5 linked regions of the Homo sapiens genome follow. The protein of the gene in region 2 interacts with the protein of the main gene of each other region in a biochemical or structural test. Each region holds a gene or a part of one and is shown on either strand. Other genes may lie near its edges.

The links.
Region 1: the proteins of DYRK2 (region 2) and SIAH2 form a complex in vitro, tested with the Homo sapiens proteins (one study listed by BioGRID).
Region 3: of the proteins of DYRK2 (region 2) and TERT, one has a biochemical effect on the other in vitro, tested with the Homo sapiens proteins (one study listed by BioGRID).
Region 4: the proteins of DYRK2 (region 2) and UBR5 form a complex in vitro, tested with the Homo sapiens proteins (one study listed by BioGRID).
Region 5: of the proteins of DYRK2 (region 2) and MAPT, one has a biochemical effect on the other in vitro, tested with the Homo sapiens proteins (one study listed by BioGRID).

What each region holds. Positions count from the first base shown.
Region 1 is NC_000003.12:150,750,859-150,756,725, forward strand, and holds part of SIAH2 (E3 ubiquitin-protein ligase SIAH2), read right to left. Parts: intron 1-5,867. UniProt on the Homo sapiens protein: E3 ubiquitin-protein ligase that mediates ubiquitination and subsequent proteasomal degradation of target proteins.
Region 2 is NC_000012.12:67,650,850-67,656,716, forward strand, and holds part of DYRK2 (dual specificity tyrosine-phosphorylation-regulated kinase 2), read left to right. Parts: intron 1-5,867. UniProt on the Homo sapiens protein: Serine/threonine-protein kinase involved in the regulation of the mitotic cell cycle, cell proliferation, apoptosis, organization of the cytoskeleton and neurite outgrowth. Functions in part via its role in ubiquitin-dependent proteasomal protein degradation.
Region 3 is NC_000005.10:1,265,579-1,271,445, reverse strand, and holds part of TERT (telomerase reverse transcriptase), read left to right. Parts: intron 1-241; coding exon 242-327; intron 328-2,812; coding exon 2,813-2,926; intron 2,927-4,910; coding exon 4,911-4,982; intron 4,983-5,867. UniProt on the Homo sapiens protein: Telomerase is a ribonucleoprotein enzyme essential for the replication of chromosome termini in most eukaryotes. Active in progenitor and cancer cells. Inactive, or very low activity, in normal somatic cells.
Region 4 is NC_000008.11:102,290,604-102,296,470, forward strand, and holds part of UBR5 (E3 ubiquitin-protein ligase UBR5), read right to left. Parts: intron 5,180-5,867; coding exon 5,033-5,179; intron 4,930-5,032; coding exon 4,811-4,929; intron 4,728-4,810; coding exon 4,601-4,727; intron 4,509-4,600; coding exon 4,379-4,508; intron 3,513-4,378; coding exon 3,352-3,512; intron 3,242-3,351; coding exon 3,002-3,241; intron 1-3,001. UniProt on the Homo sapiens protein: E3 ubiquitin-protein ligase involved in different protein quality control pathways in the cytoplasm and nucleus. Mainly acts as a ubiquitin chain elongator that extends pre-ubiquitinated substrates.
Region 5 is NC_000017.11:45,988,502-45,994,368, reverse strand, and holds part of MAPT (microtubule-associated protein tau), read right to left. Parts: intron 4,492-5,867; coding exon 4,294-4,491; intron 2,910-4,293; coding exon 2,783-2,909; intron 446-2,782; coding exon of another isoform or gene 392-445; intron 1-391. UniProt on the Homo sapiens protein: Promotes microtubule assembly and stability, and might be involved in the establishment and maintenance of neuronal polarity.

The sequences.
Region 1 (5,867 bases), on a different chromosome or scaffold from region 2:
CCAGTGTCCTGTGTGACCTGGAGCCTACCAAATCACCTATGAGTGGGTCTATAAAACTGTCTATGACTTCCTCCTTGACTATTATTAACAGTGGAAGAGTTGTAGACTCTTCAAGTTAATCATGTTAAGGCTTGGGAAACAGGAGAAAGTGAAATCTGTTCTTGTGACTTATTTATAATATTCAACCTGCATCTGTCTAGCATCCTTCCTCTAAGAACCTTAGCGTATTTTCCCTTAACTTGAATGGTAAATTCCTGAACTCTGCTGTGAGGCAGTGTGAAGAGATAATCAGGCCTGACACGGTGGCTCATGCCTGTAATCCTAGCACTTTGGCAGGCTGAGGCAGGCGGATTCCCTGAGCTCAGGAGTTCGAGACCAGCCTGGGCAACATGGTGAAACCCCATCTCTACTACAATACAAAAGAAATTAGCCGGGCGTGGCAGCATGTGCCTGTAGTCAGGAGGCTGAGGCAGGAGAATTGCTTGAACCCGGGAGGTGGAGGTTACAGTGAGCCGAGATTACGCCACTGAACTCCAGCCTGGGTGACAGAGAGAGACTCTGTCTCTTAAGAAAAAAAAAAGAGAGAGATATCATCAACCAATAGTGCAGTAACAGTTTTACAGACAGTGATAGGAGAAGACACTATTACTCAGCACTAGAACTGTCAAGTCAAACAGTGTCACCAAACAGTGGTGAGAGTAAGGAAACACTTACTGTTCACTTTACTAAATTTCTTCTGGGGAAGACAATTCTAATTAAAATCTTGGGCCCAAAAATCTGTCCTTTTTGCCTAAGAGAAAGTCAACAAACCACCTTTTAGCTTTCTTACTAAGAGGTGTCTTGGGAAGACTTTGGCATAAATTTCTTTTCTTTCTTTTTAAAAAGAGACAGGGTCCTGCTGTGTTGCCCAGGCTGATCTCAAACTCCTAGCCTCACGTGATCCTCCCATGTCAGCCTCTCGAAGTGTTGGGATTATAGGCATGAGCCACCACAACTGGCCTGGCATAATTATTACTGCAGAAATCTGAGAACACCCTGCTATCAAGGGAGGGTGTGTTTAGCCTTACAGAGACTCCCAGGGCTGGCAGGGGTTTATTTTTAATCTTAGAAACTTTAAACAAAGGTTGACTTTTGACCATGTATGTTTCTCATCTGTCCATAGCCAGAGTTAGCAGGTAACCACACATTGTCATGGAGAACCAGTTTTGTGAGGTCCTTTCAAAGTGCATGTTCAAGCAAACAAAACACTTAAAAGCTGAGTTAAAGGCTCTATGCCATGTGACCAGTACCACACCCACCCTTTCAGTATGCCCTCACTCTTCCATGCCAGGTTCCCACCTGCACAACCACATAACTGCCCTGACAGTTCTTCAAACAGCTCTATTCCCCTCAGCAGTCTTTATTTCTCAACGAAAGCAACTGAATTCACCAAAAGACTTAAGTGGTAGGGTTGTAAAATTATTAAATAGGCCAGGTGCAGTGGCTCACGCCTGTAATCCCAGCATTTTGGGAGGCCGAGGCAGGCGGATCACCTGAGGTCAGGAGTTCGAGAACAGTCTGGCCAACATGGCGAAGTCATGTCTTTACTGAAAATACAAAAATTATCCGGGCGTGATGGCATGAGCCTGAAATGCCAGCTAATCGGGAGGCTGAGGCATGAGAATCACTTGAACCCGGGCGGCAGAGGTTGCAGTGAGCCAAGATCGCACCACTGCACTCCAGCCTGGGCGACAGAGCGAGACTCCATCTCAGTATTAAAAAAAAAAAATTATCAAATAAAAATACAAGATGTCTCTCAGGCAATGTTTGGAATATACTTATTATTCTTCTCCGGCCCCGCAAGTTATTTGTTGTTTATCTGAAATTCAAATTTAACTGGGCACTCTGTATTTATCTGGCAACCCTAATAAGAGGACCTGCTGGTACCACTGCCATCCCTGCAAAAGCCACTCCTTGGGTCTAGAATGGGAAGAGGGATCACTGTTCCTCAGAAGGGTAGAGTGGGCACAGAAAAAGCAAGAGGTTGTAGTGAAAAAGACACTGTATATGTAATTAGTCCAGACTGGAGTTTCTGCCCCCAAACTTAAAAACTGCACGAGCATGGGTGCCTAGCTCGGGCCATCTATAAGCAAGGCAAGCAACATCCTTCACAAGCAACTTTGCTGGCCTCCCACACAGCCTCCTTATGAGCTTCCATCCCTTCTTTCTTCACAGGCAAACCGCTGCGCACCTTCAACATGCAGCTGGTGCCACCATGGCAGCAAGGTCTTCGGACTCCTTTCGGCTCCTAGTACTTCAGACGGGCTCTGCCCTATTGGCACATCTGTCTCCACCAGTAGACTTAGGAGAGTTTCAGAAAGACGAGAGGGGTGAGCAGAGGCAAGAACTGGCTAGGCAGATGGGTTGTGGGAAGGAGAGGGCCTGGAACTGCAGGAGATTCCAAGGCAAGAGTGAGTATGATGTAAAGTTGGTGGGGTCAGCAGCGGCCAACTCTGGCCTGACACTGCACCAGGGAGAAAAAGCAGGCTGTGGCATTAAGAAAACCAAAAGGTAACACCCAATGTCGGTGCTGCTGGGAAGAAATGGACATTCAACTGTAAACCATTCTAAGGGAGAAAACAATTTGGTTCTACTATCAAAAAGCTTCAATTTCTCAGGCCGGGTGTGGCGGCTCATGCCTGTAATCCTGCCACTTCAGGAAGCTGAAGCCGAATCACTTGAGCTCAGGTGTTCAAGACCAGCCTGGGCAACATGGTGAAACCCTGTTCCTACAAAAAATACAAACATTAGCCAAGCCTGATGGTGTGTGCCTGTAATCCCAGCCACTCAAGAGGCTAAGGTGGGAGGATCCCCTGAGCCCAGGAGGTTGAGGCTGCAGTGAGCTGTGATTATGCCACTGCACTCCAGCTTGGATGACAGAACTAGACCCTGTCTCGAAACAAAAAACAAAAAAAAAACACTGAGATTTCTGCATATACCCTTGGGCTCTACCATCCAACTTCAAGGAATTTAACTTTAGGAAATAACTATATTTTTGTGTACAAAGATTTGGTTATAGCAGTGCTTTAAAAAAAAAATCTCAGTAAGAAAAGAGAATTTAAATGACCACAAATAGGAGCCTGATTAAATAACTCTGGTACTGTTATAGAACTGCAATATGTGGCCATTAAATATGATCCTAAAGAATATTTATCACTGTAGAAAAGCAGTCACGATGTGTTAGATAAAGAATGTGTTAGATAAAGAAGCAGATTATGAAACAGTGTAGACAATAGGATTCCTCACCTGTATTGTTCTATTCTCAAATTGCTACAAAGAAATACTTGAGACTGAGTAAGTTATAAAGAAAAGAGGTTTAATTGGCTCACGGTTCTGCAAGCTGTACAGGAAGCATAGTGGCTTCTGCTTCTAGGGAGGCCTCAGAAAGCTTCCAATCATGGTGGAAGGCAAAGGGGGAGTGAGGCATCTCACATGGCAAGAGCAGGAGCAAGGGTGGGAGAGGTGCTTCACACTTCTTAAATAACCAGATCTCATAAGACTCACTATCATGAGAACAGCACCAAGAGGATAGTGCTAAGCCATTCATGAGAAATCCACCCCCAAGATCCAACCACCTGCCCCAGGCCCCACCTCCAACATTGGGGATTACAATTGAACATGAGACTTGATGGGGACATAGACCCAAACCATATCACCATCTCACTTGTTTTGTTTTTGTTTTTGTTTTTAAAGAAAAACTCCACCGATGTAGAAATAAGTTTGCAAGGATGTATGCAAAATGGTATAGTGGTTATCTTTAGGTGAGGGAGATTATAGGAGATTTTAATTTTATACTATTTTCTATATGTTCTACATTTAAAAATAATCATAACTTTAGAAAACATAATATGTAAAAATACACAAAATATAATACATATAATTTAAAATGCTGCTTAATCTAACCAGTTTTCCCTCTCAAAAAATTTAAAGAAATGAAAAAAAATCCTCATCACTGAAAAACCAATACAAGGGCCAACTTACACAGCTCTATGAAAATGCTATATGATTAAGAGTAGGGAAGGGAAGCTCATTGGGAAAATCTATGGGAAAAAATAGGAATGATTCCTTTTTTTCAAGTTTATGCATGAACCTGACCTCAGACATCGGCCATTTAGTTTCTGTTAGCTTCTAACTGAGCACATTTATTTAGTGCCTGGGCTGTGTCAGGCACTTTGCATGAATTATTAGTGTGTTTGGTCCTCAAGGCAACCTTGAGGCTTGGAGAGGTCACCAGCCAGTCACAGTGGGGCTGGAGTTGGGATTTGGACCAGGCCAGATGAGGGGCTGCCCTCAAAACTGCCAGAGTTAGAGGGATCCTGGGGGTAAAAGGGACCCAAAGATACTATCTTTGCTGATTCAAAATTTTAAAGCAGTGCATAGGCCGGCGCATTAGCAAAAGAATATTTTTCTTTTTCTTTTCTTCCCTTTTTTTTTTTTTTTTTTTTTTTTTTGAGACAGGGTCTCACTCTGTCACCCAGGCTGGAGGGTATTGGCAAGATCTCAGCTCACTGCAGCCTGGACCTCCTGGGCTCAAGCGATCCTCCCACCTCAGCCCTCTGAGTAGCTGGGAGTATAGACACGAGCCACCATGCCCAGCTAATTTTTGTATTTATTTATTTATTTTTTTTATTTTTTGAGACGGAGTTTCACTCTTGTTGCCCAGGCTGGAGTGCAATGGTGCGATCTCAGCTCACCACAACCTCCGCCTCCTGGGTTCAAGTGATTCTCCTGCCTCTCAGCCTCCCAAGTAGCTGGGATTACAGGCATGCGCCACCACGCCTGGCTAATTTTTTATTTTTAGTAGAGACAGGGTTACTCCATGTTGGTCAGGCTGGTCTCGAACTCCCAATCTCAGGTGATCTGCCCGCCTCGGCCTCCCAAGTGTTGGGATTACAGGTGTGAGCCACTGTGCCTGGCACAAATTTTGTATTTTTAGTAGAGACGGGGTTTCACCATGGTGGTCAGGCTGGTCTTGAACTCCTGACCTCATGATCTGCCCTCCTCAGCCTCCCAAAATGCTGGGATTACAGGCATGAGCCACCACACCTGACCAGGAATATTTTTCATCCATCTGTATATCACCTGTGGGCAAAAACTGAGAACAGGAAAACCCTTTTATTCCATAGATGCTACACAGTCTAAAAATCATTACATAAAATCTTTACCAAACTGGAAATGAGGAAAACAACAGTTTTGCAATCTAGGGCAAAGCTGATGAAATTCTGTAGAGCATTTCAGTATCCTTCATCAGCCTTAAAAGGATACCCCGAATCTTAAAATAAAGATACATTTGATCAGGAAGACTTTCTTATTTTCCTTTTCAGGATGTCCAGCGTGGAACCACATTCAAATACCCTGTGTATGATCATGTCCTGAAAAACTCGCCAGCAATACACAGTGGCTCCAAATGCTGGCACTGGTACACAGTTTAGCAAATGTGTATCTGCTACGTGCCCCTTTCAAGGAGTGAGGACCTTATGGGTTTGAATAAGAACGGCCATGTCTCACAAATTTTGTCAGAAGCAAAATCTGATGCTTAAGACATTTTACAGTGAAGCCTCACTATATTCATGTATACAGTACTTTTTAATGGGGCTTCAAAAAACAGCTCTACCACAGAACGGGAGAGTCTATCCCAATCTTGGGCTGGTATTTTATAGGCCAGACCTGCTGTAACTTTTGGTAAGCCTCTGTTCTGGTTATACTAAGGCTCAACTTTCACTGATAACTATTTACTCTAGTTCCAGGTCATGGTGACCTGTGAAAAATCTTTGGCCAGTTATGTGTGGAATTACCATTAAGCTTAAGTACTGCCATATAGTATTCTA
Region 2 (5,867 bases):
GATGGTTCTGTGTGAGGGAGGCTTGCTAGGGATTGGTTTTATTTGCTAAGTGAAAGTTGAGTTCTTGAAGAAAAGGCCATCTCCGGTCTACAGGGGAGTAGCTCTGGGGACATATGTTATGGGGAAACTTGTTTGTCAGAGAACTGTGAGGGGATGTCTAGACTGTAGTTGCACCTGTTAGACTTGGAGAGATGTGTGCAAGTTTCGTAGGAAAATGTTTTGTTGCTGTTACTATCTTCCCCCTCCCTCTGTCTGTCTCTCTATCCTGACACATCTGGTCCCAGGGGCTGGGAATTCATTGCACAGAGGTTAACTAACCTGTGTTGGACTGTGGATGGTATAGTAGGATGGATGATTCTGTATATTACTGTTAAGTGTTCTTGTCACAGTGATATTTAAGGGACTGCCATTGATTTTAGGGGTTTGGATTTTTTTGTTTGGGATCATCTGACAATTTGGAAAATATAATACCCAGTTTTTTGCTATGTGTTGATGTAATCACATGACATGGTGTGAGCTGGAAAAAGAACTATTTGGTTTGCATGTGGATTCCAATTTTGTAAGGATGGGCTTTGCTTGATCAGAGCCTCTTTGCAATTGAAATACATGTAATGAAAGTAGATGAAACGACAAGTCTCCACTGGAGGGAGAGCCTGTGGTGCACCAGAAAAGGAAGGATGCGAATGTGCTTCTCAGTACTCCTCATAATGGAGGCCTGTATTTTGCTGTGGCATATGCCAGATTTACTTGTTTTTAACGTGTGTGTAAACTTCGGTATGCTGTTAATTATTAGATGCTTGACTTTGAAGGTGTGAATTTGGGTTTCGATGGTGGTTTAGTTTTGATTTTATTTCTATAACATAGCAGATTTCATAGTACAGGAAAGGTTACAAGGACCACAGAGTTTATCTGGTTCTATTCTTTCAATTTATAGATGAGGAAACAGACTCAGACAAGGTAACTGGTTTCATCAAGATTCCCCAGCCAGTTCATATCAAGGCCAGAGTGAAAGCCTACATCCTCCTGCATCTAGTTTTAATATACTGATGGAGACTGCTAATTCTAGGAAATTGTACTAGCCTCATTATAAATGCAAGAACCTTTGTAGATCCATATTCCCATATGTCTGTCAGATTTTTATAAATTTTTAGTTATTATTTCCAGAGTAATTACACCTAGGAAGAACTTCTAGAATGAATGGGGGGCGGGAGGGCATTAAGGAGATAAAAATGATCTTGTCATAGGAGCTTGCCCACATTTTCTCTTACAGGTGATATAGTAGGCAGGTTAAATATATGATTATAAAGATTATAAACTTTGGAATTTATCTAGACCATTGCCCTTTTGTTTTATATCTCCATGTATAAGTTGTTTTACACTTTAGTTATTTCTGTTTGTGTGAGAGAGAGAAGTGTGCCCAATCACTGTCTTACTTCCTATTATTTTTCTATTAATGTTAATTGGTAGTTATTAATAGAAGTATTTTTAAATTCAAAAATATTAAAATATGTATAACTTTTGTAACTGTTTTACTATGTAAAACACTCCAGTTATCAGTTTTACCTTTATAAAATAATTCAAATTGAAATACACATTTTAAAAAATGGCAGTATTTTGAAGAAGAAAAAGTAGACATTTTTCTTTCTGACAGGGCCACACAGACTGTCAGAATGTTTGAGGAGGAGCTAAAATTCCAGTCTTTTTGGACTCAATTCTATTACCATAATACTATACAGCATTTCTAAGATGACTTCAGAAAAGTTTTTAAACGCCCAAGACTATTATCACAGTGGAATATCTGCTGTTTGCCATTTTCTTATTGGAAGAAATGAAAACTACCAAACTGGTTAGACTATTGTTTTTATATAATATTTAATACCAAAGTACTTGATGATCAAAGAAGCCTTTGCAGGTCTCTCAATTCGAACCCATAAATTGTAGCTATTTTAACAATTGTATTATGTTTTTATTTTTTGTTTTGTTTTGTTTTGTTTTTTTGAGACGGAGTCTCACTCTGTTGCCCAGGCTGGAGTGCAGTGGCTCCATCTCGGCTCACTGCAACCTCCGCCTCCGGGGTTCAAGCGATTCTCTTGCCTTAGCCACCCAAGTAGCTGGGATTACAGGCACCCGCCACCATGCCTGGCTAATTTTTGTATTTTTAGTAGAGATGGGGTTTCACCATGTTGGCCAGGTTGGTTATGAACTCCTGACCTCAAATGATCCACCTGCCTCAGCCTCCCAAAGTGCTGGGATTACAGGATTGAGCCCCTGTGCCCGGCCTCAGTATGTATTTTTAAATGTGACACACACTGTGCTATACATTGGCATATCGGAATAAGCCATGATCTCAGACTTCAAGAGGCTGAGCTGGAGGGAGAGGTTTTTAGTATCCTTAAGTTTATGATGTAGTCTTGACATACGTATTCTGGAAATGTTCTGGCATTTCTAGTCCCTCAGCACCCCCACCCTGCTCTCTGCCCCATTTTTTATAAGTCAGTTAATTGTGCTTTTGAGCTTGATTGTGATTTTAGAGTCCTGCAATGTTTGAGATTCAAAGTCTTCTTTTGCTAGAGCTTCTCAAATGAATCTCTAACATCTGGAAAGCTTTTAAGATTGCATGTGTTGCTTTTAGGTGTTTGGTTGATGTGTTTGTTGCAAGTGTTTTATACATGGTTTGATTGATGTGTCTGCTACAGGTACTTTATGCTTGGAGGTCCTTGGCCTCCAAGTCTGTGCGGATCCACTGCAAGCCTAACGTCTTGTGACTTAGGTCACCAGGGACGTTTCTTAATTCCCTGGGCCTTGACTTCATGTTTCCTTATGAAGGTACACAATGTAGTTCTCAGGAACAACTCCAAGAGAGGCAAGAGTTAACAAGGAGGATCTATTGGCATGTGTTCTTCCATCCCAAAGATATTTATTGAGGGCTTACTATATGCCTGGGTTTATGTTAATGAGGACTTGGAAACATAAGAGGGGACCCAGCCCTGGAATTGCTCACAGCCAGATGAGTACATCTGATGTTAAAACAATTGCAATAAAGAGAAATAAGTAAAAGGGTGAATCACCTAGGTATGAGAAAGGAGATTACAAGAAATATCTGGAAAGGACAATAATAATGCTCTCATTGACTGACTACTAAGCACTTTACACATATTACCTTATTTAATCCCCCTAAAAGCCCTAATGAGGTAACTTTGTTACCTTCTTTTTGCAGACAAGGGCACTGAGGTTAACAGAGATGAAATAAGTTGCCCTGGGTCACACATTTAGTAAATGGTGGAGCTGGATCATTTAATGTGTGTCTAACTGAAAATCTACCATTATGAAACCTGACCTCACTAAAAGCAGAGGAGTGTAAAAGTGTGTGGTGTTTTTTGGGTCCTGGGCTATCTAGCTTTGTTCTCTTGGAGAGAAGAGTGACAGTAGTTGATGAGAATGGAAGGACTCCGATCATTTAGCCTCTACATTTTAGAGCCTTGTGTTCTTACTGGTAAGTTCTTGCATTAGCTATGGAAATAGGTTACAGCCACAGGCCTTGGGCAAAAGCAAGAGTGGTCTCAGGTTGAGACTTTTAAATCAGACTCTAGAAGCACTATGGAGAAGAGATTTGAGGAATTCTAGACTTAGAAGCAAGGGGGCATGTTACGATGCTGCCTCAGTTGTCCCAGTGAAAGACATCAGGAGAGTGAGATGAGGCAGTGTTGATGGAAAGGGCCTGGGATAGTAATGATGCATCTTCTTGGTGACTTGGGAAGGTGAGGGAGGTGTTGAGATTTTCCAGGCACACAGTGCTGAGGATTCATTCGCAGGTGGATAGCCTGAGTGACACATGGAGGGGAAGCCTTCTTTTTATCAAAAATGGAGGATTATGGAAGTGGGAAACTGGTTTGTTAGAAAAATCATGAGTTAAGTTTGAGTTGCTTATGGGAGAGGGAGCTGATCGATAGTTGGATATGTGTGTCTTCCACTCAGGAGATAGCACCTTGGAAGGTCTGAGCTCAGGGAACAAATGCGCAAACATCAGGCCATGGGCAGTTGCTGAAGCCCTGGCTGTGTTCAGGATCAGTTGCAGGGGGTTATGGGAGTAAGAAGCCAAGAGAATCGAGATTTGAACCCTGGGGAACTCTTGAATCCACCTAAGGTTAGGTAGTAGTTGATGCTGCAAAGGAGACCAAGAGAAGGCAGTTGGAGATATAGAAGATGGTCGTTTCTTGTCAGTCTCGTTAGTTTTAGTTACTAAAACATTTGTGATCATGTATTAAATTATGCGAAACACAAAAATTGCTTGAAGTAAATTTCTGAGGCTTGGTTTTACTTTGCTGTGTTTTTAGAAATCTCTAAAGCCCCAAGGTTAATTTTGTCCTAATGAAGAGCTTTATGCTTTTTATAGCATGTATACAGGTAATGTGAATTTTTCTGCTGAAATATCACCACTCCACTCTAAAGAAAATGATTCTATAGGAGAGAGATATTTTGATTCAGGCCCCTTTATTGTCTGGTGTTTGAAAGACCACAGTGGACAGGAGAGGGTGCAGAGAGCGAGGCTGGGGAAGAGAAGCATTGGACAAGCCTGTACCTCTTTTATATATGCCCAAGACTTGCCTGATTCATTTTTATGGACTGCCCTGCTTTTGGCATAGAACAAGGGTAAAATAACCTTTCTAGCTACTCTTATTGAATATAAGGTCACCTAGCATGGAGTATCATCTATGAGTGTGATAAAAAAGCTCAGTTATAAGTCTAAGAAATGATATCCCTGAGCCTATGAAGTCACAGTCAGACAGGCCCCAAGTATTGTCTTCTGTTTTGTTTTAGTTAGAAGTGGGCAGAGAGGAAGCTCACACTCCACATAGTCATTGTGCATATTATGTATCCAATAAAGAAAATGTGAACGTCTTGGTCTGCTAGTAAGAAGGAGTTGGAATTTCATTTTGTAATCCAGGTGTTCCCAAATCATGTTTTGAATTACTGTGTTACATATACAGAGCCCTTCTGCTCTTTCAGTAGTATGTAAAGCCCCAAAGGTAGGATTTAAAAGGGGATAGTAGAAAAAATACTGATGGCAGTGGACTTCATCTAGTTAATTGTAAGTTCCTGGAGGGCAGGGACTCTGTCACTTTGGCAGCCAGCCTCCTGTTAATACCAGTTGACTGAATGAGGTGGATTGTGATGACAAGGTGGTGTAAGATTTCATACAGAAATCACCTGCCAGGCTGCTTTAAGACTAGGGGTTGTCCAAGGCAGGAATTCCTAACTGGGAGAGGATCCTGGCTGCCAGTCCTCTCCTACCCCTTACCTCTCAGCAGCCATAATGCTTAAAGGAAATCCCAAGAAGATTCTCAGTAGAGGGCTGGGGTCCCTTGGTTCACACCATTGATAGAATTTAGACAGGAATGTTCAGGGATGGCATGCATACCTGAAACAGAGGTTGCTTCTTTGGATTCCTATTTGGAAATCTGAGTATCCCAGCAGCTTGTAGAAATGGACATCTTCAGAGAGCTGAGCCACTGACCCCTCCGGAGGAAGGCCAAACAGTGTGGTCGTTGCTTGGTTTGTTGGGCTGAATGCCTTAAATGGTTATTACAGTTAGTAAAGCCTGGAAACTTTTAAAAATAGGTCAGGGGTCCATAAGATACTATGGTACACATCTACATGGGAATCTTTCAAGTCTAAAAACACAGGGTTTTTGTTTTTGTCACTGGATCATGTGTGCACTTAGGTTTCATCAGATTTTCAAGGAAAGGGGAAATACTGGTGATGAAGTGTTTTCAGGATAGAGCTCTAGGTATTAGGGAAAGAGTAGTGAACAAGACAGACATGGTCCCTGTCTTCATGTTAATAAACTACTAGATGAAATATGAAAG
Region 3 (5,867 bases), on a different chromosome or scaffold from region 2:
GAGCCCAGCTGGACCCACAGGTGGCCCAGAGGAGACATTCTGTGTCACACACTCTGCCTAAGCCCATGTGTGTCTGCAGAGACTCGGCCCGGCCAGCCCACGATGGCCCTGCATTCCAGCCCAGCCCCGCACTTCATCACAAACACTGACCCCAAAAGGGACGGAGGGTCTTGGCCACGTGGTCCTGCCTGTCTCAGCACCCACCGGCTCACTCCCATGTGTCTCCCGTCTGCTTTCGCAGAGCTCCTCCCTGAATGAGGCCAGCAGTGGCCTCTTCGACGTCTTCCTACGCTTCATGTGCCACCACGCCGTGCGCATCAGGGGCAAGTGAGTCAGGTGGCCAGGTGCCATTGCCCTGCGGGTGGCTGGGCGGGCTGGCAGGGCTTCTGCTCACCTCTCTCCTGCCCCTTCCCCACTGCCCTTCTGCCCGGGGCCACCAGAGTCTCCTTTTCTGGCCCCCGCCCCCTCCGGCTCCTGGGCTGCAGGCTCCCGAGGCCCCGGAAACATGGCTCGGCTTGCGGCAGCCGGAGCGGAGCAGGTGCCACACGAGGCCTGGAAATGGCAAGCGGGGTGTGGAGTTGCTCCTGCGTGGAGGACGAGGGGCGGGGGGTGTGTCTGGGTCAGGTGTGCGCCGAGCGTTTGAGCCTGCAGCTTGTCAGCTCCAAGTTACTACTGACGCTGGACACCCGGCTCTCACACGCTTGTATCTCTCTCTCCCGATACAAAAGGATTTTATCCGATTCTCATTCCTGTCCCTGTCGTGTGACCCCCGCGAGGGCGCGGGCTCTTCTCTCTGTGACTAGATTTCCCATCTGGAAAGTGCGGGGTTGACCGTGTAGTTTGCTCCTCTCGGGGGGCCTGTGGTGGCCATGGGGCAGGCGGCCTGGGAGAGCTGCCGTCACACAGCCACTGGGTGAGCCACACTCACGGTGGTAGAGCCACAGTGCCTGGTGCCACATCACGTCCTCTGGATTTTAAGTAAAACCACACACCTCCCGGCAGGCATCTGCCTGCGACCCTGTGTGTGCCTGGGGAGAGTGGTAGCACGGAGGAAATTCGTGCACACTCAAGGTCATCAGCAAGGTCATCCGCAGTCAGGTGGAACGTGGAGGCCTCTCTCTGGGATCGTCTCCAGCGGATAAAGGACTGTGCACAGCTTCGGAAGCTTTTATTTAAAAATATAACTATTAATTATTGCATTATAAGTAATCACTAATGGTATCAGCAATTATAATATTTATTAAAGTATAATTAGAAATATTAAGTAGTACACACGTTCTGGAAAAACACAAATTGCACATGGCAGCAGAGTGAATTTTGGCCGAGGGACACGTGTGCACATGTGTGTAAGCGGCCCCCAGGCCCACAGAATTCGCTGACAAAGTCACCTCCCCAGAGAAGCCACCACGGGCCTCCTTCGTGGTCGTGAATTTTATTAAGATGGATCAAGTCACGTACCGTCCACGTGTGGCAGGGCTTTGGGGAATGTGAGGTGATGACTGCGTCCTCATGCCCTGACAGACAGGAGGTGACTGTGTCTGTCCTGTCCCTAGGACACGGACAGGCCCGAAGCTCTAGTCCCCATCGTGGTCCAGTTTGGCCTCTGAATAAAAACGTCTTCAAAACCTGTTGCCCCAAAAACTAAGAACAGAGAGAGTTTCCCATCCCATGTGCTCACAGGGGCGTATCTGCTTGCGTTGACTCGCTGGGCTGGCCGGACTCCTAGAGTTGGTGCGTGTGCTTCTGTGCAAAAAGTGCAGTCCTCTTGCCCATCACTGTGATATCTGCACCAGCAAGGAAAGCCTCTTTTCTTTTCTTTCTTTTTTTTTTTTTGAGACGGAACGTCACTGTTGTCTGCCTGGGCTTGAGTGCAGTGGCGCGATCTCAACTCACTGCAACCTCCGCCTCCCGGGTTCCAGCATTTCTCCTGCCTCAGCCTCCCGAGCAGCTGAGATTACAGGCACCCACCCCCTGCGCCTGGCTAATTTTTGTATTTTTAGTAGAGAGGGGTTTTTGCCATGTTGGCCAGGCTGGTCTCGAACTCCTGACCTCAGGTGATCCACCCACCTCGGCCTCCCAAAGTGCTGGGATTACAGGTGTGAGCCATCACGCCCAGCCGGAAAGCCTCTTTTTAAGGTGACCACCTATAGCGCTTCCCGAAAATAACAGGTCTTGTTTTTGCAGTAGGCTGCAAGCGTCTCTTAGCAACAGGAGTGGCGTCCTGTGGGCTCTGGGGATGGCTGAGGGTCGCGTGGCAGCCATGCCTTCTGTGTGCACCTTTAGGTTCCACGGGGCTATTCTGCTCTCACTGTTTGTCTGAAAACGCACCCTTGGCATCCTTGTTTGGAGAGTTTCTGCTTCTCGTTGGTCATGCTGAAACTAGGGGCAAGGTTGTATCCGTTGGCGCGCAGCGGCTACATGTAGGGTCATGAGTCTTTCACCGTGGACAAATTCCTTGAAAAAAAAAAAAGGAGTCCGGTTAAGCATTCATTCCGGGTCAAGTGTCTGGTTCTGTGAATAAACTCTAAGATTTAAGAAACCTTAATGAAAGAAAACCTTGATGATTCAGAGCAAGGATGTGGTCACACCTGTGGCTGGATCTGTTTCAGCCGCCCCAGTGCATGGTGAGAGTGGGGAGCAGGGATTGTTTGTTCAGAGGTCTCATCTGGTATGTTTCTGAGGTGTTTGCCGGCTGAATGGTAGACGTGTCGTTTGTGTGTATGAGGTTCTGTGTCTGTGTGTGGCTCGGTTTGAGTGTACGCATGTCCAGCACATGCCCTGCCCGTCTCTCACCTGTGTCTTCCCGCCCCAGGTCCTACGTCCAGTGCCAGGGGATCCCGCAGGGCTCCATCCTCTCCACGCTGCTCTGCAGCCTGTGCTACGGCGACATGGAGAACAAGCTGTTTGCGGGGATTCGGCGGGACGGGTGAGGCCTCCTCTTCCCCAGGGGGGCTTGGGTGGGGGTTGATTTGCTTTTGATGCATTCAGTGTTAATATTCCTGGTGCTCTGGAGACCATGACTGCTCTGTCTTGAGGAACCAGACAAGGTTGCAGCCCCTTCTTGGTATGAAGCCGCACGGGAGGGGTTGCACAGCCTGAGGACTGCGGGCTCCACGCAGGCTCTGTCCAGCGGCCATGTCCAGAGGCCTCAGGGCTCAGCAGGCGGGAGGGCCGCTGCCCTGCATGATGAGCATGTGAATTCAACACCGAGGAAGCACACCAGCTTCTGTCACGTCACCCAGGTTCCGTTAGGGTCCTTGGGGAGATGGGGCTGGTGCAGCCTGAGGCCCCACATCTCCCAGCAGGCCCTCGACAGGTGGCCTGGACTGGGCGCCTCTTCAGCCCATTGCCCATCCCACTTGCATGGGGTCTACACCCAAGGACGCACACACCTAAATATCGTGCCAACCTAATGTGGTTCAACTCAGCTGGCTTTTATTGACAGCAGTTACTTTTTTTTTTTTAATACTTTAAGTTCTAGGGTACATGTGCACGACGTGCAGGTTAGTTACATATGTATACATGTGCCATGTTGGTGTGCTGCACCCATTAACTCATCATTTACATTAGGTATATCTCCTAATGCTATCCCTCCCCACTCCCCCCATCCCATGACAGGCCCTGGTGTGTGATGTTCCCCACCCTGTGTCCAAGTGTTCTCATTGTTCAGTTCCCACCTGTGAGTGAGAACATGTGGTGTTTGGTTTTCTTTCCTTGCAATAGTTTGCTCAGAGTGATGGTTTCCAGCTTCGTCCATGTCCCTACAAAGGACATGAACTCATCCTTTTTTATGACTGCATAGTATTCCGTGGTGTATATGTGCCACATTTTCTTAATCCAGTCTATCATCGATGGACATTTGGGTTGGTTGCAAGTCTTTGCTACTGTGAATAGTGCCGCAATAAACATACGTGTGCATGTGTCTTTATAGCAGCATGATTTATAATCCTTTGGGTATATACCCAGTAATGGGATGGCTGGGTCAAATGGTATTTCTAGTTCTAGATCCTTGAGGAATCACCACACTGTCTTCCACAATGGTTGAACTAGTTTACACTCCCACCAACAGTGTAAAAGTGTTCTGGTGCTGGAGAGGATGTGGACAGCAGTTATTTTTTTATGAAAATAGTATCACTGAACAAGCAGACAGTTAGTGAAGGATGCGTCAGGAAGCCTGCAGGCCACACAGCCATTTCTCTCGAAGACTCCGGGTTTTTCCTGTGCATCTTTTGAAACTCTAGCTCCAATTATAGCATGTACAGTGGATCAAGGTTCTTCTTCATTAAGGTTCAAGTTCTAGATTGAAATAAGTTTATGTAACAGAAACAAAAATTTCTTGTACACACAACTTGCTCTGGGATTTGGAGGAAAGTGTCCTCGAGCTGGCGGCACACTGGTCAGCCCTCTGGGACAGGATACCTCTGGCCCATGGTCATGGGGCGCTGGGCTTGGGCCTGAGGGTCACACAGTGCACCATGCCCAGCTTCCTGTGGATAGGATCTGGGTCTCGGATCATGCTGAGGACCACAGCTGCCATGCTGGTAAAGGGCACCACGTGGCTCAGAGGGGGCGAGGTTCCCAGCCCCAGCTTTCTTACCGTCTTCAGTTATTTTTCCCTAAGAGTCTGAGAAGTGGGGCCGCGCCTGATGGCCTTCGTTCGTCTTCAGCTGGCACAGAATTGCACAAGCTGATGGTAAACACTGAGTACTTATAATGAATGAGGAATTGCTGTAGCAGTTAACTGTAGAGAGCTCGTCTGTTGGAAAGAAATTTAAGTTTTTCATTTAACCGCTTTGGAGAATGTTACTTTATTTATGGCTGTGTAAATTGTTTGACATTCAGTCCCTCGTAGACAGATACTACGTAAAAAGTGTAAAGTTAACCTTGCTGTGTATTTTCCCTTATTTTAGGCTGCTCCTGCGTTTGGTGGATGATTTCTTGTTGGTGACACCTCACCTCACCCACGCGAAAACCTTCCTCAGGTGAGGCCCGTGCCGTGTGTCTGTGGGGACCTCCACAGCCTGTGGGCTTTGCAGTTGAGCCCCCCGTGTCCTGCCCCTGGCACCGCAGCGTTGTCTCTGCCAAGTCCTCTCTCTCTGCCGGTGCTGGATCCGCAAGAGCAGAGGCGCTTGGCCGTGCACCCAGGCCTGGGGGCGCAGGGGCACCTTCGGGAGGGAGTGGGTACCGTGCAGGCCCTGGTCCTGCAGAGACGCACCCAGGTTACACACGTGGTGAGTGCAGGCGGTGACCTGGCTCCTGCTGCTCTTTGGAAAGTCAAGAGTGGCGGCTCCTGGGGCCCCAGTGAGACCCCCAGGAGCTGTGCACAGGGCCTGCAGGGCCGAGGCGGCAGCCTCCTCCCCAGGGTGCACCTGAGCCTGCGGAGAGCAGGAGCTGCTGAGTGAGCTGGCCCACAGCGTTCGCTGCGGTCACGTTCCTGCGTGGGGTTGTTTGGGATCGGTGGGAGAATTTGGATTTGCTGAGTGCTGCTGTCTTGAACCACGGAGATGGCTAGGAGTGGGTTTCAGAGTTGATTTTTGTGAATCAAACTAAAATCAGGCACAGGGGACCTGGCCTCAGCACAGGGGATTGTCCAATGTGGTCCCCCTCAAGGGCGCCCCACAGAGCCGGTGGGCTTGTTTTAAAGTGCGATTTGACGAGGGACGAGAAACCTTGAAAGCTGTAAAGGGAACCCTCAGAAAATGTGGCCGCCAGGGGTGGTTTCAGGTGCTTTGCTGGGCTGTGTTTGTGAAAACCCATTTGGACCCGCCCTCCAAGTCCACCCTCCAGGTCCACCCTCCAGGGCCGCCCTGGGCTGGGGGTATGCCTGGCGTTCCTTGTGCCGCAGCCCGGAGCACAGCAGGCTGTGC
Region 4 (5,867 bases), on a different chromosome or scaffold from region 2:
CTATAGGCCCCTCAAAGTGGTTACTTTAAGAAGTTATGCAGTTAGTATGTATAATACTGCCAAAACAGACTAGGTATAGTGGCTAATGCCTGTAATCCCAATGTTTTGGGAGGCTGAGGTGGGAGGATTGCTTGAGGACAGGAATTTAAGACCGACCTGGGCAACACAGCGAGACCCAAACGCTACAAAAAATTTAAAAAGAGTAATTTAAAAATACCAATACATAAAACGTATTACAGTTGAACATCCCTTACCTGAAATGCTTGGGACCAGAAGTGTTTTGATCTTGGGTTTTTTTTTTTTTTTTTAAATTTTGGAGTATCTGCATTATATATATTTATCAGTTGAGCATCCTCAATCCCAAAATCCAAAATGCTCCAATGAGCATTTCCTCTGAGCATCATGTTGGTGCTCAGAAAGTTTCCGGTTTTGCAGCATTTCAGATTTCTCATTTTCAGATTAGGAATACTCAACCTGTGTAACTCCCCAGTTAGTGTGACTTCAACTTTTTTCCCAACAGACTTGCTGGCACAATGAAGCACAACAGTCCTGAAGCCTAGTCTAAAAAGCCCCGTTAATACACTACTAAGTTTTGGGGACTTCTAGTTCCAGCAATTTGGCAGACTGTGCAGAGAAACCACTCTTGTTAAGGAACACATATATATGCTAGATATTAAAAAAAAAAAAAAAAAAAAGGACAGCTGTGCAGGTGATAAAGAGAAACGACTGTACTGTATAAAGCTTGGAGAGACAAGTGCCACCATTTATCCCAAAGGGACCCACTGATGTCTCTTGGGCTAGAAGGGCTTCAAGGAACCACAGATTTCACATGAGAGTCTGGAGGCTAAGCAAAGAATAGAAAGTCATCACAGGAATCTCCTCTTCTGTCCCCCTCACATATATAAAGCTAAACATAAATCTTAAAAGGGCAACACCATGAAGGAGTGAAACAGAAAAATCATACCTCGAGAGATTTACCTATCTCAGCCATGAATAGATGCAGAATGGAAAAAGGTCTCTTTTGAGAACTTCTAACTACAAGTCTGCATTTTGGAGAGTTTTGGACTGCACTCTACACTATAAAGCCTGGTTCAGTGTTGGTTAACTGTGTGGTGGCTCAACACTATGAGCAAGCACCAAGTAGTCTTCCTCTCTACTCTGCCATCTACTATTCAGGAGAATACAAAAAAAAAAGGAAGTATCTGTCAAGGTAAGTCCAGCGTCTAAACTTTAATTAGCTGTGTTACACTGGAGAAGTTGCCTAACTTTTCTGAGCCGTAGTTTCCCCATTTGACAAACTAGAATGATAGTGGTTATCTATGACATATTGGGAAAATTAAAACAGGTAATCTGTCTACAATACTTAGGAAAGTTCCTAGTACATACTAAAATTTCAGTAACTGTTAGTTACTGTTATATGAGAGACATGGAAATAAAGTAGAAACAGATTATTTATTAAGAACATAACAAGAACATTTTCAAGAGGTGGAAAGAAGCAACAGAAAAAGCTACTCTTAAGACTTCACACTCAATGGGGTGATATACACCTTCTATAATCCAAGACAAGTGAAATCCCAGAGAATGGTCAAGGTCTGTGTTTTTCAACTTAAGACATCCTTGGAACACTAGTCAAAATACACCCTTTATGGGTAAGAATGTACTGTACTATAATAAAGAACTTTTAACAGTTGAAGAAAACATTAGCACTATTTCTTGATTATCACATGAGATCTCCTTCTGGGAAGATTTAGGAAGTTGTCTCAAGAAACAAGCAAAGGGAATGGAATAAAGAGAGTTTAAGAGTATGTAATACTTTAATAATGAGACTAAGAACAAGATGACACAAAATCTTGAAACTTAGTAGGAACAGTTTCAAGGGCAGTGTTTAGAGATGAGACGATCCCAAAATCTGTTCAACAGCCATCAATTTTTTATGTTCCAGAACAAGATCAAGGGAAGTATACTAAGAATTCACAAAGTAATACCACTTAAGTAACTAATGAGTTCCTCACAGGGTATCAAGATCAGGAAAATCATACAGAGTCCAAGCAGATCTCACAAGCAGAATTATTTAATCATGGGATAGATTTGACAAGTCTGAAGATACACAGCTTGATTTGTAACAGTTTTCAACAAGTCCTGGATGTATATCAGTATCAAGGATACTATGGGAGAGCTCTGTCAGACAAAACTGGATTTAGATTAAAGGGACACCTGACATTAAAGGAAAAATTGGGACACATATACTGGCATATAGGAGAATAGTGAGAGCAGATACTCAACACCAACCCAGATCAAATCCAAGCGTAACAACTTGGGAACTATCCCAAACACTAAAGCAGGCCATCCTTATTAACAGAGATGTTTTCCAGAAAAGGAGGAAAAGGGTCTTTAGATCCTAAAGGTCCTTATTAAAACATCATCACACATGCACATGGTTATAAAATCAGACTTGAAAAAACAAAATACACTAAATATTTGCCAAAGATCTACAGCATTATTACTGAAAAGTCTGACCCCTAAACCAGCAGAATTGGCATCACCTGAGAACTTGAAAGGCATACGAAGTTGGAGGCCCCACCTCAAGACCTCTAGAGTGGGCATCTATATTTTAATAAGAGCCCCAAGTCATTTTCATACATATTAAAGTTTGAGAAGCAGTGTGCTAAAGGACATCGGAAAGTTTTAAGTTGCTCAACATCCTGATTCAACAAGCTTACAGTGTAATTAGGGAAACTATCAAACAAATAGAAAAGATAAATGAAACTTAAGAACAAATAATCTTATAATTAGAAACATTTATAATGGAGTTATTTTAGCCCTGTCCTTGATAATACAGTTGTTGTAGAAAAATATTTAAAATTCCGGCTTTCTGGTTGTTATTTATGTTACACAAATGATCATGTACACCACCTGAGTGCTTATGCAAAGGTTTTAGGAAGTCAAACACGACATTTCCAGAGAAGGATTAATCAGAATCTGTTACCTGGTAGCAATTTACCTGCTAGACTGATCAGATGATGGTCGTGGTGGTAGTGGTTCCACTGAAAATAATTCTTCACTGCCCTGCATGGCATCTATGCTAGTACTAGCCAGGGTAAATGGTGCAGTTGGACGAGCAATCCCCATTCTGACAGGAACAATCAGTGACTCTGCTACGTTGCACAATTCTTCCACAGCGTAAGGTAGCAATGCTTGGAATACACGCTTGCATTTTCCAATTGGCTGTGGAATAAAGTTGCTAGAACAAAAAGAGAAATATCAGCAATCTATCTTTTCATATACATAAATCACTATCACAAAAACAGAGTGAAAATGGTATCTAAACCAAAATCAAAAAGGATGCCTTACTTTTTCTTTTTGGATGAAGCCATTTCCACACTCAGAATAACAAAAACTCTTGCCACTGAACGTAGAAACCTCATTGTCACAGCAATAGCTTCTTCTCTACGTCCAGGTGTATATTTGTTTTGGAGTTCTTTCACTAGTGTACCTAGTAGAGTATCTAAAAGCTTTAAAAAATTATATTCACTCTATTAATGTTAAGATACTTCATAAGATGTTTAGACATTCATAAAGTTATAAGTTCTAACATTTTTTAAGTATTAACATTTTATAATAAAATCTCAAAACAAATTTAACCAAAACATTTACAAGGTCAGTTTATGAAATATACCTGCCAATGTGCTTGACATACAGTGAGTCCTAAATGTACGATTTCTTATTTTTTGTCCCACAGTCCTTGGTATATCAACTAATATTTAGAAGAACAATACCAAATATATGAAATCAGAAGAAGAAAACATAAACTCAGTCTGGGGCACTTTCCAAAACAGCAAAGCAGACTCAAATATTTATATGAATAAATTCATAATCCCATCTCCCTCATGGAACCATTATTACTTTCTAGTCTCTTTTCTGTGTGCAGCTTCTTGTATAAATGTTAGCTACAGAGAACACCCAATTTTCACAGTTTGGTTGTTTGGTTTTTTTTTTTACGTTATTTACAATACGATTTATTTTTAAATTGCTGCATCATATTCCAGTAAGTGGTCAGGCTATAATTTGATTCAAGATTACACTAGTATTAGGCTGATATTTTTCTGTTTTTAAATTTTACATTATTCTGTGACATGCCTTTATTTTTCTCACATCGTAAATTATTTATTTATGACAGGTTCTGAGGGCACTGATAGTTTTATGTTTTCCAGAGAAAGGAACGATGCAATGCCACCCCATCCCTATCTGAGTGTGTTATTACCATAACCTCATTCGCACTGGATCTTAAGGTTTAAATTCTTTTCTAGTTTCACAGCAAAGAAGAGTACTTGAAAAACATACTTTTCATGTACTTGTAATACACATTCAAAGAACTTACCAAAATATCTGCTGTACACTTAACTATAAGGCAATGAGTGAAACAGTCCAGCCGAATTGTGCCACTTTGCTGATTGAGGTATACTTGCTCTTCTGGCAAAAGATGGCCTATTCTACTGCTGGCACTAAGACTTGAGGAGAAACGAAAGACAGAATGAACTGTAAAAGGTCTACACTAACGTAGGAAATACATAAATCTAAAAAGGTTTTAATGAATACGTACGGGTCTTTATTCTCCTGCGACCCAAACATAATCATAGATTTCAAGGCATTCCAGTCCTGTAGAACACGCTCCAATGCAAGCTGGGCAAATCTTGGAGGCTCTAAATCATGATCTGGCATATCTGAATCTAAAATGAAAAAGAAATAGTGACCAAAACAAAAATAAAACATATTGCTTCCCACAAGTGTCATAAATGTCTAATTAACTCACCTTCAGGACTGGCTGTTTTTCGGTTACGATCTTCCCTGATTCGAGGTGGCCTGTATTGACAATGCTCCACCGTCTGCCTTGCGACTGTCTGTACTAAGAATAGTAAGAGGTGCTCTCCCCTGCAAAACAGAATGTTGTCGTGAGGAGGGAGGCTGAAAAGCTACTCAGCTGTGCTGCGCTCTTTTGATTTAACTTACTGTATGTTCTAAAAATCCCACTTGCCTGCTGTTTGGCAGAGTAACCAGATTAGTAGCAGTGAGCAGGCGATAAAGTAGATCAAGACGAGCAGATTTCTGTCCAGCAATAAGAGTTTTACATTTACATTTCTCCCAACAATCACAGTAGGCTGTTGGTGATGTCCGTTTGAGTCTATAGAGAATTTATACACAAGTACAAAAACTGAAATTTTTTAAACATACAAAGGTTTATGTTGACATTATGAAGGTATAACTCACTGAAACCAGAGAGAGCCCTTGTTAATTTCTAAATGCAAAGTATAACTGTCAAAGCTTATATAACAAGAAGGATTACTTGGTAGTAATGACATCTATAAAGCAACACAGAATTCCTATGAGAAGAGGTACTCTAAGGTACAATCACTTTTGGAATCTCTTCCCTAATTCCCAGTCCTGTTCAAGTGGTCCTCCTATATGACCTAATGAACCCTGTAACCCTATGGGCAGATATTTCTTGCTTCTGATAGGGATGTGAACACTGTCAGGACTATTCACCACCACCCTGGCATCTAGTACACTTGGAAAACAATCAATAACAACAGATTATCACACCTTTAGGTACTTAAAATAAGGAAAACAAAAAATACCAACCAGAATTCTTTTAATATCTATTAAAATTTTTCATTTGTCCTATACAATTACTTAATGGTACGGTAGATGGTTTTTACAGTCCAATTCTCTATTATAACATTTGTAGCCATTTATACTGAAGTCCCTATCCATAATCCTAAAACACCACAGATGTTAGTGCTAGGTATTTCATTGCTTCTCAGGTCTCTGAAAACCAACAGAACTAGCTGTGGTAACTGTTGCTGAATGAA
Region 5 (5,867 bases), on a different chromosome or scaffold from region 2:
AGACCCAGGGTGACCAGTGGGCTTGGTGGTGGTGGCTCCAAATACTTTTCATGCCTCTTATTTACAGAGTGGTCGTGGGCAAGTCACCTGACCTCCTTAAGCCTATGTCTTCATCTGAAACATAGGGAGACAGCCAGGCATGGTGGCTCATGCCTGTAATGCCATTGTCCCTGAAGTCAAGGAGAGCACACAGGATTAGAAAGCCCATCAGACAAACACAGCTGCGCAAACTGCACAGGGAAGAGAATTCGGACTGCTCCATCTTCAGGCTGCGAACCCTGTGTGAACCCTGCATTGCAGAAAAGGGTCCTCCCGGCTCTAGAAACACAAGCCAGTGAATGGCCACACACGCAAAGGGAGGCTGCTCCCAGCGAAGTAGGCTCCCGAGTACCTCTCTCAGATCTGGGCCCTGCAGGGGGTGGTCTTCTCTGGACTTGCTTAGTCGCTTAAAGAGAAAAATCCACGAAAGCCTTATTATCATCAGGCTTAAACAGGGCCTTAATGAGTCCTTCACGTGGCAGGCACCCACAGCTGGCCCAGCAGGGGCCCCATTCTGAAACAAGGTCGAGGGGCCCAAGGGGGAGGGTCTCTCCACCTGCAGGCAGCCACCGAAGAGCAGGTAAGACCCAAAGGGAAATGCATCACGTTGTTTCAGGTTGTTACAAAGTGTGAGTCCCCTGTAATCCCAGCACTTTGGGAGGCCGAGGTGGGCGGATCACTTGAGGTCAGGAGTTCGAGACTAGGCTGGCCAAAATGGTGAAACCCTGTCTTTACTAAAAATACAAAAATTAGCAGGGCGTGGTGGCCTGTGCCTGTAGTCCCAGCTACTCAGGAGGCTGAGGCAGGAAAACTGCTTGAATTTGGGAAGCAGAGGTTGCAGTATGCCAAGATTGTGCCACTGCACTTCAGCCTGGGTGACACAGTGAGACTCCGTCTCAAAAAAACAACAACAAAAAACAGAGTGTGAGTCAACTGGCCCGATGTTAAGTGAAAAAAAAACAGCAGGATCCAAACGCTACTTAAAATCCTGTCAAAATTCTGGGAATTATCCCTGGATCACATGTATATGAGAAAAACACCAGGCCAGAAAACACGAAGCGAAAAGACAAAAACAATGGGCCTTAGTGAATGGCCATCCTTGGGGGTGCCACTGCACGGCATGTGTGCGAGAAATGCCACCGCAAAGACACGCAGCAGGTGGTGGGCAGGCTCTGGGCAGCTCCCTCAGGCCAGGGAGAAGCAGAGTCACCAAGATCCAAGATCCAGGCCAGGCTTTGGTCACAGCCCGCAGCAAGTGCCATAGGCTGCCCGTGCCACCAAGGAGCAAGTGCAGGTCAGACACCCCTACATGGTGCAGAGTCTAAACCCAGGGGCCTGGAATACTTCACTGGGGCAATGGAAGAGAGAAGTGCTCGGGCAGGCAGGCAGGCTGTCCCTAATCCCCAAAGAGGACGACTGTTTTTTTTTTTTTTTTTTTGAGAAGGAATCTCACTTTTGTCATCCAGGCTGGAGTGCAATGGTGCGATCTCAGCTCACTGCAACCTCTGCCTCCTGGGTTCAAGTGATTCTCCTTCCTCACCCTCCTGAGAAGCTGGGATTACAGGCGCCCGCCACCACGCCCAGCTAATTATTTTGTATTTTTATTAGAGACGGGGTTTTGCCATGTTGGCCAAGCTGGTCTCGAACTCCTGACCTCAGGTGATCCGCCCACCTTGGCCTCCCAAAGTGCTGGGATTACAGGCATGAGCCACCACGCCCAGCCGCGACTGTTCTTAATAGCACTCCTGGCTGCAAAATAACTCAATGGATGCCTTACTGGGTACTCAAAATTGACTGGGTTTTACTCACAGGAGCCCAGGGCAACGGGCCCAGCCTGTGACTGCTCAGCTAAGACCCTCAGGTTTTGCAGCAGACTCCTAACGTCCCTAGCAAGTTAAGCTGCCCAGGGGTTGAGCCCTGAGTGACGTCACCCATTGTGACTTATCCAGGCTGCTGCTCTGTCTCCAGAGACATTTGTCTCCAGAGTCTCATTTGGGGACTGAAAACATGCCATGCTGGGGCTGCCTCTATGGAACCCTGGACTTGGGGCCAGAGAGGCTCCGAGAGCTGCCACTTAGTAGTCATGTGACTGCATTTTCCTCGGGTTTAAAATGAGCTGGTTAGACTCAGTCAAGCAAACTCTCAGAGGCTCGATTTCTTTCTTTTTTTTCCTTTTTCTGTATTTTTTTTTATCATGCTGCAGAATCAGCCTCAATTTCTTCATTGATAAAAAGTGAGGATTCAGGCTGGGAGTGGTGGCTCATGCCTGTAATCCCAGCACTTTGGGAGGCCGAGGCAGGTGGATCACCTGAGGTCAGGCGTTCGAGACCAGCCTGGCCAACATGGTGAAACCCTGTCTCTACTAAAAATACAAAAAATTAGCCGGGCATAGTGGCAGGTGCCTGTAATCCCAGCTACTAGGGAGGCTGAGGTAGGAGAATCGCTTGAACCTGGGAGGTGGAGGATGCAGTGAGCTGAGATCACACCACTGCACTCCGGCCTGGATAACAAAAGCGAAACTCTGTCTCAAAAGAAAAAAAAAAAAAAAGGTAGGGATTCAACATTTGCCTCAGAAATCAAAAGGACTGAGAAGGCAATGAAGACTCCAGTGCTTAGTAAACTGCAAGCTGCTGACCAGCTGCCAGGGGTTATTCATTCTCAGTGGCCTAAGGCCTCCTAAAATGAAGGCTGTACCTCTGAGAGCTTCAGCTTCCTCTAAGATTCAAGAGAACGTTCTTCTTACCAGAGCTGGGTGGTGTCTTTGGAGCGGGCGGGGTTTTTGCTGGAATCCTGGTGGCGTTGGCCTGGCCCTTCTGGCCTGGAGGGGCTGCTCCCCGCGGTGTGGCGATCTTCGTTTTACCATCAGCCCCCTGTAAATGAAACATGATAGAGGGGTTTTTCACCATTGGGAAAAGTTACTGCCACCAAGAGTCAACACCAGCCCCACTCCGCCACCTTGACTCAAAACGTGGCTAAGACTGGGGTGACCCTTTGCCTCCTAGATGCCACTAGTGTCTGCTACAACCACAAGGGCTTGCTGGGCACACAAACCCACATCCCCACCCAAACTCCAAGTTCCCTGAGGACATTTCCTCCCAGAGGAACTGTGTGCATTAGTTATCAGCATGAGTTGTGCCAAGGCCAGCAGAGCTCACAGCAATGATCAGGTCACTCTCCACTCCATGTCAATCATCGGCAGGACATTAGTGCACTACACATATGCAGACATCCATTTTCTGACTCTAATTATGGATTTATTTGGCTGATGGTGGTTGGCTCCACCAGAGGCCCCTGGGGGCAGTGTTGAACCTGACCAAGGATGCTAAAGAGAGCTAGGTCGTGTTCTTTCATTCTCTCGCAAACAACCCTAAGGCCTCAAGAACTCCTTGGGTGTGCTCAGACCAGGCGAGCACCCGAGGAGGCGAGCACCAGCATCACTGACAAAGCTGGCAGAGTCGGGCATGGCACAGTCTAGGGACTAGGGCAGTCCCTGGGTTCCGTTACCCAGCAGATGACCCTTAGACATAACACAAACTCAAAAAAGAAACTGACATTAACCAAGGACCACAAGCTAGTTGAGGGGGCAGTGAGCTCACGGGGCAGTGTTGCTATGGCGTGATGCTGTCCTACCCAGATCAGGGCAATCTGGAAGCATTTCTCTTGCCAAAATCAGGAATGGGCAAAGGAACCCAATGAGAGTAGCAATTTTGGGTTTGTTTTTTAAACAATTTTTGCGACAGGGTCTTGCTCTGTCGCCCAAGCTGGAGCTAACTACAACCTCTGCCTCTGGGGTTCAAGCAATCCTTGTGCCTCAGCCTCCCGAGTAGCTGCGATTACCACCACGCATACCACCACGCCCGGCTAATTTTTGTATTTTTAGTAGAGACAGGGTTTTGCCATGTTAGCCAGGCTGGTCTCGAACTCCTGATCTCAGGTGATCCACCCTCCTCGGCCTCCTAAAGAGCTGGGATTACAGGTGTGAGCCACCGTGCCCAGCCTTAGAGTAGCGATTTCGAAACCAAGGTCCCACCAGGTGTCTTAGGAGCTGCTGCTATGAGAGCCTGTGGGGTGCTGAGAGGGATGGCCCCCAGCTCTCTTTTCCCCTTTGCCCAGAATTCTAACTATTTTACACGGTGCTTCTATGCCAGAACTCATTTGAAGAAAGGTCTTTGAGGCTAAAAAACAAATAAACAAACCCCACATTTGCAAACCACAGCAGAGCAGCCTGGTTCTTTTCAAAGGTGGTTTCCTTACCTTGAGTTTCATCTCCTTTGCTCCAGAACTGCCAGTTCGGGAAGTGACAGAAGAGACGTATTTAGGAGAGGAAGGTGGCTCTGGGCACACAGCAGGGCTGGAGGGTTGGATCAGAGGGTCTGAGCTACCAGGAGTGGGGTGTTTGGGGCTAAGGCAAGGCCTATTTTTCAAGGTTTTAGCAGAGGAACGTGTGGATGTCTTAAACATAAACATAAATAAAATCAAAATAAAAGTCAGCACATGGAGGAGGGAAACAAACTGAAAAAAGGACAGTAACTAAAAATAAATAAGGCAGGTAATGGTTGAAAGCAGTGATCTCCAGGCTGTTTGAATCAGGTACCCTTAATATCCCTTCTGATCAGTAAGAACAGGAAAGTGACCGTCCTCCCCAATCACAGTTCTTTTTCTTTTTCTTTTTCTTTTTTGAGACGGAGTCTCGCTCTGTCGCCCAGGCTGGACTGCAGTGGTGCAATCTCGGCTCACTGCAAGCTCTGCCTCCTGGGTTCACGCCATTCTCCTGCCTCAGCCTCCCGAGTAGCTGGGACTACAGGCGCCCACCACCACGCCCGGCTCGTTTTTTTGTATTTTTAGTAGAGATGGGGTTTCACTGTGTTAGCCAGGATGGTCTCGATCTCCTGACCTCGTGATCCACCCGTCTCGGCCTCCCAAAGTGCTGGGATTACAGGCGTGAGCCACCGCGCCTGGCCCTGACAAAGCTTTTAGAAGAGGACATGAAAAAGGAATGGAAGTTCTAGTACGTTCTTTCTCCAGCCTGTTGGATGTTACTGTGCCCCTGAATTTGGAGACGACTGGTTTAAAGGTGCTTCACATGAGTAAGTTGATGGAGATCATCAAGGTACATGAATCTTAGGATGTTACTCAAGAAAATGTCCCCAAGTGTGTCACGGGGTCTGAAGGGCCTTACTTTCTACTCAATTCCAGGCAAGGTGCTTTTTTACCTGCCCATTAACCCATGGCCTCTTCCACCACACTGACAGACTCATATGGCTACAATCAGGAGTGTGCCCCCCCCAAGTTGGAAAGATTCTACCTGACTTAGGTTACACCCACCCCCACCACACATGTGCTTTCTGATTAAAGTCTCAAATCAAACTAATATTAACACTATCTGGTGAATCCTAATCTGGCCAATGTTAACTCTTTTGTTTGTTTGTTTGTTTGTTTGTTTTAGAGACAGGGTCTCCCTCTGTTGCCCTGGCTGGAGTGCAGTGGTGCCATCACGGCTCACTGCAGCCTCCACCCTTTGGGTTCAAGTGATCCTCCCACCTCTGCCTGGCCAATTAAATTTTTTTTTTGAGATGGGGTCTTGCTATGTTGCCCAGGCTGGTCTAGAACTCTTGGGCTGGGGACATCCTCCCACCTTAGCCTCCCAAAGTGCTGGGATTACAGGCATGAGCCACTGTGCCAAGCCTCCAATGTTATCTCTTTTTCTTTTTTTTTCAGTTTGTCAGTGTAAACAACACTGCTTACTTTTGAACCCATTCCACAAGAGGAAGCAGCCAGGGACGGGTGTCTGCACGCCTGTCCCTATGGAGGCGGGGCTGGGGGGGGCC